Regions from separate parts of the Homo sapiens genome. Here region 1 is linked to region 2. A link means that fine-mapping ties the variant in region 2 to the expression of a gene that starts in the linked region. Tissue or cell type: whole blood. Region 2 holds a variant in brackets; the other region holds the start of a gene. All regions are shown on one strand. Distances are from middle to middle.

Evidence for each region. PIP is the estimated chance that this variant, and not a neighbour inherited with it, causes the effect.
Region 1: INSC starts here. The variant in region 2 is fine-mapped to the expression of INSC in whole blood (TOPMed, PIP above 0.99).

What each region holds. Positions count from the first base shown.
Region 1 is chr11:15,111,391-15,119,390 of GRCh38, forward strand. It overlaps INSC (INSC spindle orientation adaptor protein), which reads left to right and starts at 3,533. Exons shown (of 13, transcript NM_001042536.3): 1 at 3,533-3,613. RefSeq lists enhancers at 2,006-2,055, 2,707-3,240.
Region 2 is chr11:15,175,263-15,183,521 of GRCh38, forward strand. It overlaps INSC (INSC spindle orientation adaptor protein), which reads left to right. Exons shown (of 13, transcript NM_001042536.3): 3 at 479-824; 4 at 1,849-1,901; 5 at 3,062-3,185. Among named protein-coding and RNA genes, the nearest start is that of INSC, 64 kb to the left of the region's middle. RefSeq lists enhancers at 157-680, 681-1,202. The variant AT/A (reference allele first, on the strand shown) is at 3,334.

The sequences.
Region 1 (8,000 bases), 64 kb before region 2:
AAGTCTTTCCTCCATTTAGGTCTGAACTTGTCCTTCCTAAAGTGATGTGTGAAGCTGGTGGATCTGGGATAGGCCATCTGGACAGGAGAAGAATGTGGAGTCAGGCTGGAGGGGACCTTTGCCTGATACAGCTCTGGACCAGTCCTGAGGCGCCTACTTTGGTTTAGGTGAAATAAGCTATTTGTGGGTACACCTCTGAGCATGTGCATGTGTCTTTACCTGTGTGTCTTTCTGTGCATCCATAAGGATTCCCATGTGTATTTGTGTAGAGTCTCCATCTCACCAGCTGTGAGGCCACAGACAGGTGATTTAAACCACCTGGCCTCCCTTTTCTGTGTCTGTATTATGGGGATAATAATAACTTTTATAAAAGGTTACTATGGCAGCAAAATGAAACATGCACATAAGCTTCTTAGCACAGTTCCTGGTGCTCATGTGTTAGGCTGTTATTATCAATGTCTTGGGTAAGTTACTTACTGAGGCCCTCCCTGGGCCTCAGTTTCTTCATGTGTAAAATAGGGATAATACCAGAACCTAGTACTGTTCTAAGGATTAGAGCAATTGATACCTATGAAGTTCTCGTATATGCAATAAATGTTAATGATTAGAATGTATATTATCTTTGTGTCTGGATGTGTCTGGATGAGAATATCTGAGTTTGTAAATGTCTCTGAGCATGTCTTGCTGCTGGTGTGTGTATACACACATGTATATATGTGTTTAGGTGTGTTTATATAGCCAGACAGGCCCAGTCTCTCTGGTGGAGTTTGCTGTTGGCCCAAGCCTGGACTCCCTGAGCCAGCTAGGGCCGGCGCCGGGGATGGAATTTCCATTAAGAATTAAGCAGGACAGCACAGCATTGAGAAGTCAGGCAGACAGAGGGGAGGGGGTCGAGGGGGAGGAAGCTTCAACTCTGAGCTCCCTTGGGCAGCCTCAGTACTGAACTGCCTTGGACAAGCTTTGCCTTGAGTCACAGGCCTTCTCAGGGCCATGGCCCAGAAGGGTGGGCAAAGGGAAAGAAGCTGTTCACAGGGGCCTCTGTAAGGAGACTTGGAGTCGCTGCAGCCAAGGCTGGAGCCATGAGACGGCCCCCTGGCAATGGAGAGGCGGCCAGCGAAGGTCCAGGTGGCTGGGGTCTATGGGGAGTCCAGGAGTCCAGGAGGCTGTGCTGTGCCGTATGTATCTGGGAAGGTGGATGTGAGTGTGTGTGTGTGTGTGTGTGTGTGTGTGTGTGTGTGTGTGTGTGTATTGGGAAGTGGGGGGGGGGCATTTATGCCAAGTGCCTCCAGGGAACATCTAACAAACCAAGTCTGTTCCTCTCTTACCCTGAAACCCAGACACAGAGTTTGGGCCTGGAAATAAAAGAACTTTGAGGCTTTTTTGCTAACATCGATCTGTTTATGATCTAAGCCTCATTCTATTTCTAGCATATAATAAAATATCTTAGTTTTCCAGGTGCTTTACATCCTTGACCTCACTTCATACTTTCAACAACCTCATGAGCTGGGCAGAGATTTTTATGTTCCCCAATGTACATATGGGAAAACTGATGCTCAGAGAGGTTAAGTGATTTGTCCAAGGACTCATCACTAGAAAGTAGTAGAGGCAGGATGCAAAACAGGTTTCTTTGAGGAAGAATTGGAGACTTCTTTCCTTCCCTTCCTTTCCTTCCCTCTCTTCCCTCCCTTCCTTTCTTCCTTCCTTCCTCTTTCTTTCTTTTCTCTCTCTCTCTTTCTTTCTTTCTTTCTTTCTTTCTGTCTCTCTCTCTCTCTCTTTCTTTTTTGATGCAATCTCACTCTGTTGCCAGGCTGATGTGCAGTGGCACAATCTTGGCTCACTGGCTCACTGCAACCTCCGACTCATTGGTTCAAGCTATTCTCTTGCCTCAGCCTCCTGAGTAGCTGGGGTAACAGGCACATGACAACTCGCCCAGTTAATTTTTGTATTATTAGTAGAGATGGGGTTTCACCATGTCGGCCAGGATGGACTTAATCTCCGGACTTTGTGATCTATCCACCTTGGCCTCCCAAAGAGCTGGGATTACAGGCGTGAGCCACCACTCCCGGCTGAGACTATTCTTATCATACCACCTGCCCTACCGGAAACAGACTCAGAGAGAAGATTCTGCAAACAGTCTGTAAGACTGTGGTTTCAGTGGTAATGCCCAGCCAGGCGGCACCAAGCCCTGTCCCCAGCCCTAGACAGCACTTGTTGAAACAGGAACTGAGGCCCCTCTCAGGGAACTTGGGGAGTAGAATCAGGCTGTTCTGGATGACTGGAGGGTAGAGTTGAAGCTGGCTTGTCTGAGAGGAATGATTTGGCCACCTTCTGAGCCCTGGGCCCCCAGAGAGCTGAGGAGGAGAGTTAATATCAGAGAGCTACTGTGTGTGTTCGAGTCCAGGGAGCAGCAGTTAGCTTCAGCCAGAGCCTGAAAAAAGAAATAGAGATTATTAGCATTAAGGAAGAGAAGGCTGCAGTGGGACCTCGGCGTGGTCGTTTTGTCATGGGGACTGAGTTGAGCTCCTTCTCCCTGAATACATATTGTGAGCAAATTGACATAGTTTGCATGTGAGAGATTTAGGTTAGATGTCAAGGAGATCTTTCTGTCAGTAAGAGAGTTCAAGCTTTGGAACAGGGCTCAAGGGAGACCAGGGGCTGCCTTTGCTTGAGGACCTCCAAGAATAGGTCAAGATTCTCTGGGCTCTGGGAGCCTCATAGCAAGATGGCGGAGGCGGGGGAGGGGGAGTTGTATGAAATGATCTGGAAGCTTTCTTCCAGGTCAAAAATGCCACATTCCCGAGCTTTTGGGTAGGAATCAAGTTCCTCTAGATTTAGCTATTTGACAGAGTCCAGGACGGGGGTGGGGGGTGGGGGGTGGGGTCTGATCTTATGTGCCGAAGTTAGAAGGAGTTTCTGCAACAACCCCTCGTCATTTTTGGCAGGTCCAAGATGTGGAGGGTGACTTAGGTGTGTGTGAGCAAGGTTCCAGAGGGAAGCACCTGCGGTGAATAAACCGTCTCATTCTAGGCGTTTGGGGTCTATCAAAGCTGGGTGGCTTCCTCCTTCCTAGCAAGTGAACTGCACCCAAATCCCTCCTTGTTTTGTTTCAGCTCCAAGGGAAACGATCGCGGCACATTCCCTTCCCCTCTCCAGATGTTGGCATGCGGGGCACCTTGTGGGCGACCCCGCCTGGACGGCTTCGCGGCTCCCGGGCGATCACCCTGGTGCCTGCCGCCTGGCCCGGGGGAGCCCGGTCTCTAATTAGGCCTGACCGCGTCCCCATTCCAGCGCTCCTGCAGATGGGAGGGAGGGCCATGTTTCCCCCCCCAGGGGCACCGAAATAGCCTCGTAGTCCCGCGGAGACAGCAGGCAGCCGTGGCTGACGCGGGACCAAGGCTTGGCAGGGAGCGCGCTGCTGTGGAAGGTCCTTGGGAGGCTGCGACCGCCTCGGAGAGGGCGGGCGGGGGAGAACGGGGCGGGGGGTGGGGCGGGGGCCAGGGGCGGCCTCTCGGGCTGGGCCGGCAGAGCGGCCACTTTGCGCGCGGCCTCTGGAGCTCCAGCTGCGCCCCGCCACCACTGGCCGCTCGCACTACCAGCCTGTCTCGCACGCTAAGTAAGTAGACAGCTCCCCTAGCTGGATTCAGGGGGCTGGTGATGCCTCTGCTAGCCTAGTTGGGAACAGTGCAGGTTTGTCACTAATTGGATAGTAGGTGTAAGTGTGTCAGTGGGAGTGCTTGTGAAGGGGAGCTTGCGCCAGTGTGAGGGAGTGTGTCTGGATGGGATGTCCACATGTGGAATTTTCTAGCATGTGCCCCAGGGTGCGAGTGTGGGTGAACGAGTGTGTCAGAGTGTGTGGTGGCCTGGAGTGGGCCACAGGTATTTGCCTGTGTGGCACCTGCTGCCCTGGGTGCACTGTGTCTGTACCTGTGGAAATGCCTGTGTGTGTGGCAGGAAGGCCCCCAGGTGGGCTGAGCCAGTCCACATGTGGATGAGTGGATGTGCCAGTGTGAACCCAGGAAGGCAGAAATTGGGGCTAGGGAGTGTTATCTGAACTCAGGCTTTCTAAGGTGACCTGACTTGTCCCAGCTGGGGTGTCTTCTCTGTGGGTCATTCAGCTTTGGTTTCTCAGGGCTTGGAGAAGGACAGAAGCTCAGAGCCCTCACACAACACTGGAGTGAATGTGGCTCTGACTAACCCCATCTGGCTAGACCAGGGTCAGGGAGACAGCTTGGGAGACCCCACTCTTAAACCAGGAGAAGAGACAGGAGGCCAGGGGATGAGTGGACCATATGGCCATGGCCACCCACAAACACTCGCAGTGCACCCACGCTTACATGCTCAGCATACACACATTCCTGTCCATGTGCACCAGTCTTGCACACACTCTTCTCAGGATAGCCATGCAACCATTCACACTTTCAACATGTATACCTGTGGACAACGACATGTATGCAACATGCACCCACTTTGTTCAATGCATATGCGCAAATGTATCCCTGGTGTGGCCCCACCCTCAGCCGCTAGCCTCCTCCCACTTTTGCCCCTTTTAATCTATATATTATACCTCTGACAATGGGTCCAAGAAACTGGCCTCAGTGGGGAATATTTTAAGTCAGGGACTTTGGCTGTGGGGGTCAGGGCAGATGGTGATGTGGTGCCTTTGAGGGGTTCCATTGAATCTGAAACTGAGGCTGTCCATGGAGCTCAGCCAGAGAGCATCTTGTCCCTTTAGCTCTGGGACTTAGAAGCACTGTTCGCCCTTTTAGAAGTGAAAACTTCCAAACACTGCCTTTGGAAGGCAAGCCAGGTCAGGCTGGGATCTGACATGGAGCTCAGCATATATAATTTGCTCCATGCTGTAGTTTATACTCTGGATTACACTTGCTGCAGAGAAGCAGTGACCTTTCTGGGTTGGGTCCCAAGGCAACCATTTGGCAGGGAGGACAGTGAATTGAGCTGGGTTGATTCTTTCTCTTCTTTGGTTTCGTTCAACCCTACTTTGAGTCTCCCTCCCACAGGCTGGTGGAGGGATGGCATTTGCTCTGCTCCTTTCCTTTCTTCCAGTGGTTATCTTTTTTTCTGGACAGAATCTTCTCCATGACCTCCTCCCCCTGGTGACCACTGGGCACACACTATACAGCGCTTGGAAGAGTAGGTGCCCTAAAATACCAGCTGAGTGGTGGTGTTATTCTTCTTAGTAGAGCTTCTAGACCTGTCCCATCCTGGCTATTCTCTTCTGAATACTTCAGTGAGGTACCCAGACTAAATGTGCTCTTTCAGCTGGGAAGTTAGAAAGATGGTATTGAGCTTCCTTCCTTCCCTTCCTTTCTTCCTTCCTTCTCTTTCTCTCTTTTCCTTCCTTCCTTCCTTCCATTCTTTCTTTTTTTCTTCCTTCCTTTCTTTTCTTTTCTTTCTTTTCTTTCTTTCTTTCTTTCTTTCTTTCTTTCTTTCTTTCTTTCTCTCTCTCTCTCTCTCTCTCTCTCTCTCCCCCTCCCTCCCTCCCTCCCTCCCTCCCTCCCTCCCTCCCTCCCTCCTTCCTTCCTTCCTTCCTTCCTTCTTTCCTTCCTTCTTTGATGGAGTCTTGCTCTATCGCCCAGGCTGGAGTGCAGTGGCATGATCTCAGCTCATTGCAACCTCTGCCCCCCGGATTCAAGCGATTCTCCTGCCTCAGCCCCTGAGTAGCTGGGATTATAGACCCCCACCACCATGCCCAGCTAATTTTTGTATTTTTAGTAGAGATGGGGTTTTTCCATGTTGGTCAGGCTGGTCTTGAACTCCTGACCTCAGGTGATCTGCCTGCCTAGGCCTCCGATACTGCTGGGATAACAGGTGTGAGCCACCATGCCTGGCCTGAGTTTCTTCTTTCTTAGTGTTTATGGTTTAGTCTAAGGGGTGACTAAGCTCTCACCCACCAACTCCTCTAATATGCAGGAGAGCAAGTTGGGTTCAACCATTTTTTGAGGGGAATGCTGGGATCTAGCTTCTCTTTGGCCTGATCCTACACCTGACCCTTGGGAATGGTTAAAAAAGGGCAGGCTATGGTCAGTCCAGCAGAATAAAGGTGGCAGGGGAAGGAATTATTTTCCCATTGTGCTTCCCTTGTCACTCTGCTTGCTGGGAAGCTCTTAGTCCATCATATGGCTCTGTTGTAATAACTATGTTAGTTGGAACCATTGCTTTGACTTCTAATTTCTGCTTTATCAACTTTATAGAATACATATTTTTAACTGTAAACTTCCACATCCTTTGTTGAAGGAAATCAGAACAAATAAATGAAAAACCAGCAATTAAGCATTCTATTGGTCTCTGGGGATGGGAATCACACTGGATTTTCCTGGGACATCCTCAATTTCAAATATGTCATCTGGTTTTCAACTCATATGTCTCAATTTGGCTTCTGTACCTTTGAACTCTAATTGGTGACGATGTCTTGGAGGTTTTTTTCCTAGTAGCTCTGGGACATAATGCCCATCTCTGTGCTGGCTCAGACAAGGGGGATAGTTGAGAATGAATTGGGCCATTGATAAACACCCCCTGCTCCGAGTGTTTCAGCTGCCAGCTCTTCCCTGTCTCAAAAGCTCAAGTGTCTGGGTGCCCGAAGGAGTTTGACCCTTGCCCTAAGCCTGGCCCTGGCCCCGCAGCCACCCCTTCCTCATGTGACCCTGCCCAACTCAGGGCTCTCTGTGTCTCTTGGATCTGAGCCCTCCCCCAGTATGGAACACAACATCTCTGATCAGGGATGGCCCTTGTGGAACTGGAGCTTGGGATGGGGAGCTTGGACTTAGGAGTGTGGAGGAGCACATGAAGGGCTTTACTGCCTCCTTGCCTGGGTCTGTGAGGCTAAGTGGTCAGGGAATCATTTGTCACCTCTTATCTGCAGAGGTGCACCTCATCTGAATGCAGGGCAGGGTTCTAGCCACATTGCAAAGTTGGTGAAACTTCTAATTCACTCCAAGTCAAATTATTTTATGCTGCCCAAGACCACTCATGTTTGGAAAGGAGAAAGCTGGAGGGTAAAGCTTAGCAACAAAGAATGATTAGAATAACTTGAATGGTGGGCTTTCAGGCATTGCATTGAGGTCCTGCTTCTCATTATATCTTATGTCAACCCAAGCTGGTGGCCATTGCCTGCCTTCAAGATATATCCTCCCAGAAGCATTTGATCACAAGGTAGGAAAGAGGAAATCCCCTGTGGCCTGGTACTGAGTAATGTGCTGGTGGCTTGGTATGGGTGAGGTGTTTTTTCCTTCCCAGAAAAGTGTTATCTTAAAAAGGTAAGACTAAGACTGGACCACATCTCTGCTGAATTTTCACACTATTTAGACTCTGGTTGTCCCCTGGGCTTTAAGCTCAACCAAGTGAAAACAGGCTTAAAAGCCAGTAAGAGCATTGTGTGAGATAGTTAGGACTTCTGTGCAGGAAAGGTAACTCACAGTAACTCACTTTTATTTATTATTGACTACTGTCCAGCTTCCTTTTTAGGCTCTTTCCATCTTTTGTTTCATGAAACCTCTATACCAACTCTATGAAATAGTGAAGACTATTTTAAATATAAGGAAACAGAAACACAGCAAGGCTAAACAACTAGCCCAAGGTCAGAGCTAGCAAAGATTCCTTTCCAGATCTGTCTAACTCCAGAGTGTGTAGTGAATGTCCACTGACCACGAGAGATGCCGGCAACTCCCTCATTTCAAAGGCTTTCAAAGCAGAAAAAACTACTCCTTTGGGCAAATTGGGGAATGAGGCTAAGGGGCTTGACTTCTCTGTCTGTCTCCAGGACCTCAACGTGATCAGCATCATTGGCCTTTCCAGCCTCAGCTGGAGACTGTTGCTGTGTGAGAAGCAGGGATTGAAGGGGTGGGAAAGGCCTCCTGGGTTGTGTGGGGATCTCTCCCTCTGTCTTTCAACCCCCCACCAACATGCAGTGGGCAGTGTTGAACTTCTGTGCCTTCACTTCTCCATGGAGCAACCTCTGTCCTGGGAACCAAGCCTCTGCCCAG
Region 2 (8,259 bases):
TTAGCTATAAACTTTTGGAAAGCATCATTTTAAATAATTGCGTACTACATAATCATAGCTATACCATAGCTCACTTAGTGTAACCATTATTTGATATTTAGGCTATTTCCATTAACTTTTTTTAAAGAGATGGGATCTTGCTATGTTGCCCAGGCTGGTCTTGAACTCCTGGCCTCAAGCAATATTCCTGCCTCACCCTTCCATTTCCCCCTTATTGTAAAGATCATTGGCTACTCTGTCAGACATAATTACCTGTTGCTTGTTAGTCTGGTCATCTGCCCTTAAAACTTTATGCTTCAGACTTCTTATCCATAAGATGAAGAGAATGAGAAATGACTGAGAATATCAAGGTGCATGAATGGGAGAAACACTGCTAAACATATAATAGGTGCTTAGTAAATATCAGATGGCCTAGAATTGAGACCTTTGGAAATCATGGGGTGTTGATAATTATCGTGGTGCTGTTTCCTGGTTGCAGGCTACACCTGATGCAGGTGGACTCAGTCCAGCGCTGGATGGAAGATCTGAAGCTCATGACCGAGTGCGAGTGCATGTGTGTCCTGCAGGCCAAGCCCATCAGCCTGGAAGAGGATGCACAGGGTGACCTCATCCTGGCAGGTGGCCCTGGCCCTGGAGACCCCCTGCAGCTGCTGCTCAAACGGGGTTGGGTCATTAGCACAGAGCTGCGCAGGATCGGGCAGAAGCTGGCCCAGGACCGCTGGGCACGGGTGCACAGCATGAGCGTGCGTCTGACCTGCCATGCCCGCTCCATGGTCAGCGAGTACAGTGCTGTCAGCAGGAACTCCTTGAAGGAAATGGGCGAGGTCAGCTGCCCTGGGATAGGAGTGGGCGGGAACTGGAAGTCAGGGTGCTTTAGAGAAGAGTGGGTTTGAATCATGTGGTGTCTGAATCTTTTTTGCTCCAGAAGCCTTTCTCCCCTTCCAGTAAAGGAGGAAAGAAAGAGAGTGGAATCTTTACTGAGTGCCTACTATGTGGTGGACATTGTGCTAGGTGTTTTTTTTTTACATGTATCTCATTTAACCTGCACAACCTGTGAGGTAGGTGCCACTACTTTGAGAAGCTGTGCAGTGGTTGAATATATTGACTTTAATGCCAGACTGCTTGGGTTGAAATGTTAGCTCTGCTATGTGGACCTCAGCAAGTTACTTAACTTCTCTGTGTCCCAGTTCCTTCATCCTAAAAGGTATAATAATATAATTTATTTTATAAATTTGTTGTGAGGACTAGATGAATTGTTATATGCAAAACACTTAAAGCAATTGATTAAAAATGTTAGGATTACCTTTATTTTATAGATGAGGAAACAAAAGTTCTAAGAGGCCAAATAATTTATTTAAAGTTACGCAGTGAATGGTGTAATAAGTAGGGTCCAATCTAAGCTTTTCTGAGTCCACAGCCCATGACTTTGAATCTTCTTCTCAAAGCCCAAGGTGAACCATTAAAAATCTCCCTTGTTATTAATTCTCTTTCATCATTCTCATTTCACATTAGTGCTTTGCCCTTTGCCTCGAACTTTTCCTTCCTTAGCTTTGCAGACATTAAAACTTCTCTTCATTCTTCAAAACCCAGCTCAAATGCCCCTTCTTTCCTGAAGCTTCCCAGCTTCCTCAGCATAAATAACTGCTCAGTTTCATTTTCTTATACTCCCAAAGCAGCCTACCGTGAGCTCTTTCACCACCTGTATCACACTGTGTTATATTTTAACTGCCTGTTCCCCAAGTCACATTAATTGATTCTTCATGTTTAATGTCCCCGTGTGCTCAGCACAGCAGTTGGTCCTCAGTTAATGCTTACTGAGTTGAATAAAATGGACTTATTTTTCTACAGATTGAGAAGCTGCTAATGGAGAAATGCTCGGAGCTCTCGGCAGTCACAGAGAGGTAAATTTGGACCATAGATCTCCCAGGGTCTGCCCACCCGACCTCTGGCAGGAGAAGGGGCTGGTATCTTCTCCCAGAGGGAGAATGGGAATGGGAGGCGTGGTGGTGGTTTCAGAGTTTCCTTTTTCTGACTTTTATCAGAAATCTTAAAATATTCTCTTGAAATTTTCTGCCCCATGTTCAGGCCCTAGGGATAGGGTAAAAGGCAGAGGAGAGGCCTGGGCATAGGAAGAAAGAGGATTTTCTAGGAGTTGGTAACAAGGAAAAGGTTTCCCACAGCTTTGGGAAGACCCACAGATCCCCAAAGTCAAGGCAAGAGTCAAGGCAAGGTGAAAGCCGACACTCACACCCTTACACACGCACATACACATAGACTTCAATGCCCACACTCACTTTCTCATATACAGATATATAAACACATGCTTGGACCAGCACAGAAATACATTCACACCCTTTCCTCCATATTTCACACACATAAACCTACATATGTTTATACTCAGATATGTACACACACTCAGCCTCACATGTATACACACCCAGGTGTGTGTTGACTTTTTCCTTCACCCTTCCCAGAGCCTGTGTCCTGAAGATAAAACCTGAGCTCCCTGAGGTCTTTTGCTTTCCTGGGTAGAACACTGTCAGGCCACAGGAGTAAATTGGAACCTGATCCCCCTCTGTTTTTCTTGTCTGGGAAGAAAATTCTCAAGGCTCTCTGCACACTCTAGGCAGCCATTTCTTAAAGGGCCACAGGCATTGCTATCCACCTTTTCAGAGCTCACTAGCAATACCTGGCACTTGGCACCTCTCTTTGAAGCTTCTTGCCCCTTCATCTCCCACCCCAACATCACAGAGAAGATAGACCCTGGCTGCAATGATGGCAGATTCTGCAGGGAGAAGCCCAGAGGTATAGATTTTCCACATTCTGATGGCCTTTCTTCCTGTTGATGTGGACTGGTAGTCCTCATCTCAGGCCAGCACATCTCTGCACACTAAGAGACCAGTGGGCAAGCCAGCTGTGGAATATTCCATCTCTGACTCCCAGTTGCCAATGTCTTCAGCACACACCAGGCTTGTAGCAGGTCCAGTTCTGGCCCGTGCAACATTTCTGGGCTGACCACATGCCCTTTCCAGTGGCCCACCCCATGGTTTCTTCTCTTCAGGTGCCTTCAGGTTGAGAATGAGCATGTCCTGAAGTCAATGAAGGCCTGCGTGAGTGAGACCCTGAGCATGCTGGGCCAGCACTTTGGTCAGCTGCTGGAGCTGGCCCTGACACGGGAGGTTCAGGTCAGTGCAGGCTGGGCTGCAGGGAGGGGTGCTTGTGTGGACCCTTGGAGGAAAGGAGAGAAAGAGGGGCTGAGCCAGGCTTGGGGAAGCTACTGATGTGGACTTTATTGGGAAACATCTTACTCAAACCACCAAAGTCAACTCCAGC[AT/A]TTGTGAAACAAAACTGTCAGAGCTGGGCTGAGGCTTCCTGAGCACCTAACCCAACTCTGCATTTTCCAGATGTGAAAACTGGAGCCCAGAGTGGGGAGAAACTTATCCAAGGTCACACAGCAAGATGGTGGCAGAGCCCAGCATCTCCCAATTCTACTTTCATTATTACTCCCACCCTTCCCAGAGCCTGTGTCCTGAAGATAAAACCTGAGCTCCCTGAGGTCTTTTGCTTTCCTGGGTAGAACACTGTCAGGCCACAGGAGTAAATTGGAACCTGATCCCCCTCTTCTCTGTTGAGTTAATGTTCACAGTTTACCCGATGGGTCCTTACTATCCTGAAAGAATTGAGGCACCTGCAGGGAATAAGCTAATTCTAGAAATCCTGACAACAGAGAAGAATCTAGAAAGATCATATAGTCTAGCCCCTGCCTCTAGGCAGGCTTGTGCTTGATTCCAGAAAGAGGGAGGGATTTGGAGCCTGGCCTATCTACTTTCTATCTGTGGTTCACCATGGAGCCTCAGTTAAGTTCCTGAACCTCTCTCAGCCTCGTTTTCCTCCTCTATAAATTGGTAAACCTTCTCCAGAAGAAAAGTGAGAGGACTAAGCAAAGGCATATGGAAGGTGTTTAGCACATAGTGTGGGTTAAATACATGTTATTTCCCTCCCTTACCCTTTGCTATTTTAAAAACCTCCCAGTAAAGCAGATTCCATAAGGTTTTCATTATGAAAGGTATTTATGGTTATTTATAGTTACAGAAATATTGTGTTACATATTTGCCATTCTTTTCCCACCACCAAATAAAAGCCTACCACAAATAACAAATCTCTTTCCATGTCGGCTCCTCTCCAAATTCAGCCTCTCTGCCGAGCCCAGGGTTTGCTTTCTCTCCTTCCTGAGTGTTTGGTTGGTTTGGTGCAGGCCCTTCTGGCTTGACTGACATGCTGGTCCTGCCTCACCCCCACTCCTCCCACAGGCCCCCATGTCAGTGCAGCAGGTCCTGGGTATTATCACCCCCGACCCCAACAACAGGAAGGTCCTCAAGGGCCACTCTCCATGTCTTGACAGGGACAAAGGGAAGGAAGGGCCACAGGCTGGGGTGCTGGGGCAGCACTTGGAGCTGATGAGCCAGTGCTGACAATCACATGCAGGGGCAGGTGGTGATCAACCATCAAGTCCAGAGGGACCCAAGGGACACAAGGACCAAAATGGACAAAAAAGTCGAGGGACTGATGAGCAAGAAATATTGGAGTTAGTGGTGGAGAGGGAGACCTGGAGCAACTTCTGAGCAGGGGTACAGGTGCTGGCTGTTGCTTTTTATGCCATTTTTGTGACCACTTTCCTGAAAGTGCCAGGTTCAATTAAAAGGGCTGAAAATGGCTGGACGCAGTGGCTCACGCCTGTAATTCCAGCACTTTGGGAGGCCAAGGCGGGCAGATCACGAGGTCAGGAGATCGAAACCATCCTGGCTAACGTGGTGAAACCCCATCTGTACTGAAAATGCAAAAAAAATAAGCCGGGCATGGTGGCGAGCACCTGTAGTCCCAGCTACTCAGGAGGCTGAGGCAGGAGAATGGTGTGAACCTGGGAGGCGGAGCTTGCAGTGAGGGGAGATCGCGCCACTGCACTCCAGCCTGGGCAACAGAGTGAGACTCCGTCTCAAAAAAAACAAACAAAACAAAACAAACAAACAAACAAACAAAAAGGGCTGAAAAAGAGGTGTTAAACTGTGAGTGAAAGCCAGCTGGGTTTGGAATTAGTCATCAGTGCTTTCTATGAGGCAGCAAAGAGGCAGGGTATCTTTGATGCTTTAGGTCAGAAGAGCCTGGGAAAATCTCCCTGGGCTTGCTTGGAGCCTACTTCCCTGGCCTTTGGGCTGTATAGTTGAATCCATTCTGCTATTTCTTCATTCTGATCATATTCAGGGTGAAATTCCTGATCTGGTGCTCCTACTTCCCCAGCTGTTCCCTGCTCTATTGCCAGGTCTGACCACCTGGTTCATTGATGCCTGGCCTGGAAGCTGAGTAGACCAGCTCCTGCCCTGTTAGAGTGGGTTCCTTATTGGCCTCCCTCTCATGGTAGGAGTGAGGGGGGGGGCGGGGGGGGGTGGTGGCCACAGAGTGTTGTCCTCCATTCATCTGCATATTAGTTTTCTTCCTGATAACCCCCATTCCTGGTGCTTTCCCCCTTCCCTGCCAGCAAGTCCCATGATTTCCTCCATGCCCTTTTAAGGGCTGAGCTTACCATGCTCATAATATATTTTTGGCTGATCTTTGGCTTCTTTTTATATTAGAAAGTTTCCATACAGGGCAGCAGTGACATCAGGAGATATATTGACTGAAGACAGGGTAACTTGTGTTCAGTGTTGTAAGCATGTGTTTCTTAAACTAGTGACTCAAATATTGTTCCTTAGGATGTTAGTAATTATACCAGGATCTTACATTTGTGCCGTCTTGATGTAAATGAAATCAAATCTATTTCTTTACATCAAAATTTGTCTTATGATGTGCCGGTCTGCTTTGCAAATCTTCCAAAAGGTCCTCAAGCACTTATAGTATTTCTTGTCTGACCTGCAGCTTCCATAGGCAGGGGTTTTGGTTTGTTTTGCTCGTGCATATATCTCTAGTGACTAGAACAGTATCTGGCATAGAATGTTAAGCAACATATTCCAAACTTTCAGGGTCACAGATTTAAAAATATTATTAAAGCACCTATTTACTTCTTCTGAGATGCTGGTGTTTTAGGAAATGCAATTCGAGAAACATTCTTTTAGCACTAAGAAGTCGTGTGGGCTCTTGAGCAGAGGAACAAATCTCCCCACCCCCTTCACCCCAGTATTAAGGGCTTTTTGGACTCCTTCAATTATGGTTGGAAAGAATGGTACAAACTGAGAAGTCCTGAAGGAACCTCCCATTGTTGTACAGACAGCCTGGACTAAAGCTGCTGAAAGAAACCCAGCTCCCCACACACTGGAATGAGGCCTTCCTGGCTGAGATGAACAAAGTATAAAAATTGAAGTGATTGTATTAACCCAAGAATCTGGGACTTTGGATTATTCCTAGAGTAAAAGGATTTAAGTTTTTTCTTTTCCTTTATTTTTTCCCAGGTAACTTTAAAATGGGATAGGAGCATATCAAAATTTTGGAAATCTTTATGTTTGTCATCATGCAAGTATGTTTGGATTATCTTTGTATTGCCATTTACTCTCGTTGCAGCTTCTACTTACCTATATTGGGCAACATGGCTGAGCAAAATCTGCTCAGTGGGAGAGTGGGAAATATAATAGGAAGCAAATTTCAATCTTTTTACTTTTAGGAATAATCCAAAGTCCCAAATTCTCAGGTTAGTACAATCTCTTCAATTTTCATACTCTGTTCATCTCAGCCAGGAGGGCCTCATTCCAGTGTGTGGGGAGTTGGGTTTCCTTCAGCAGCTGTAGTCCAGGCTGTCTCTTCAATAATGGGAGGGGTTCCTTCAGGACTTCTCAATTTGTACTAGTCTTTCCCAGCCATAATTAAAAGGGTTCAAAAAGCCCTTAATTCTGGATACATAATACTATCACAGCACTACACATATATTCTGAGAAAGTTACAATAAGCTGATCCTCAATGCCTACAGAACTCCAGGAACTTCAGGCAACCTGTTGTCCCAGGATGTCATCCTTAGGGTTGCCAAAGGCCTTAACAGATACATGCTCATCTGTAGCCAATAAAAAAAAAAGGATGTGACTGAGACTGTCTTGGTTGCAGCCTTGGTAGGATGTCAGTCAGTTTATTTCAGTTGTCTATAGTCTATAAAGATTTGTGAACATACACTCACTGGGGGAAAACATCCACCACAGGTTAATTGTGGTACTATGTTTACCATATATGGGGAAAAAAATGCCTCCTTTCTCATTGACGGGCATTTGAACTGTTTTCCTTTTCCTGCAAAGTCAGGCATTTGCAACTTCTTTACTAGGACTTGCTTGATTTGCATTCTTTCCCATTCAGCATATTCAAAACATCTTAATTTTTAGCTCCCTGAAAACACTGTGTTTCTGCCACTCCAGCATGCATTGATTTGGGCTTCTTGAAGTGACAGACCAGTAGTCTTCAAACCATTTCAAATGCACTGCATTCCCCAGGTTCTCAAAGATTTCCCAGGAGAAATGCAAGCACATACAGTTTTAAGGAAATCTTATTTCCAGATCTTCAATTTTCATTTGTTTTCTTTCTTAAAAATGATCTTCCCAATAATTCACTGAGTTTTTTATAGGCCTTCTATTATTTTCCAAAAGGCATACTCTTCATCCATCCCAAATCTTATAGTACATTGCCTTGCCATACAAAAATCTTGGTATGGGAGTGGAGAATCAAGCAAAGGAAAAGCTTTCATTCATGAACCATTAAGACCCTTAAGCTTCCATGAATTATTTCCATGCTTTATACATATTTATGTTGAGTATGCCATTAGAAATTGTGTATTTTGGCTGGGTGTGGCGACTCACGCTTGTAATCTCAGCACTTTGGGAGGCCGAGGCAGGCAGATCACCTGAGGTTGGGAGCTCGAGACCAGCCTGACCAACATAAAGAAACCCTGTCTCTACTAAAAATATAAAAAAAATTAGCCAGGCATGGTGGCACATGCTTGTAATCCCAGCTATTTGGGAGCCTGAGGCAGGAGAATTGGTTGAACTCAGGAGGCGGAGGTTGCCATGAGCCGAGATCTTGCCATTGCACTCCAGCCTGGGCAACAAGAGCAAAACTCCATCTCAAAAAAAAAAAAAAAAAAACCAGAAAAAAATAAATTGTGTATTTTTCCAAGTGTGAGCAGCTTCTCAATTCAGATATATTGTAGTGTGTGTATGTGTGTGTGTGTGTATGTGTGTTGTTGGAGGGATGATTATAAAAGTTTTCAATTTATTTTATCCCTTCCATCCATTT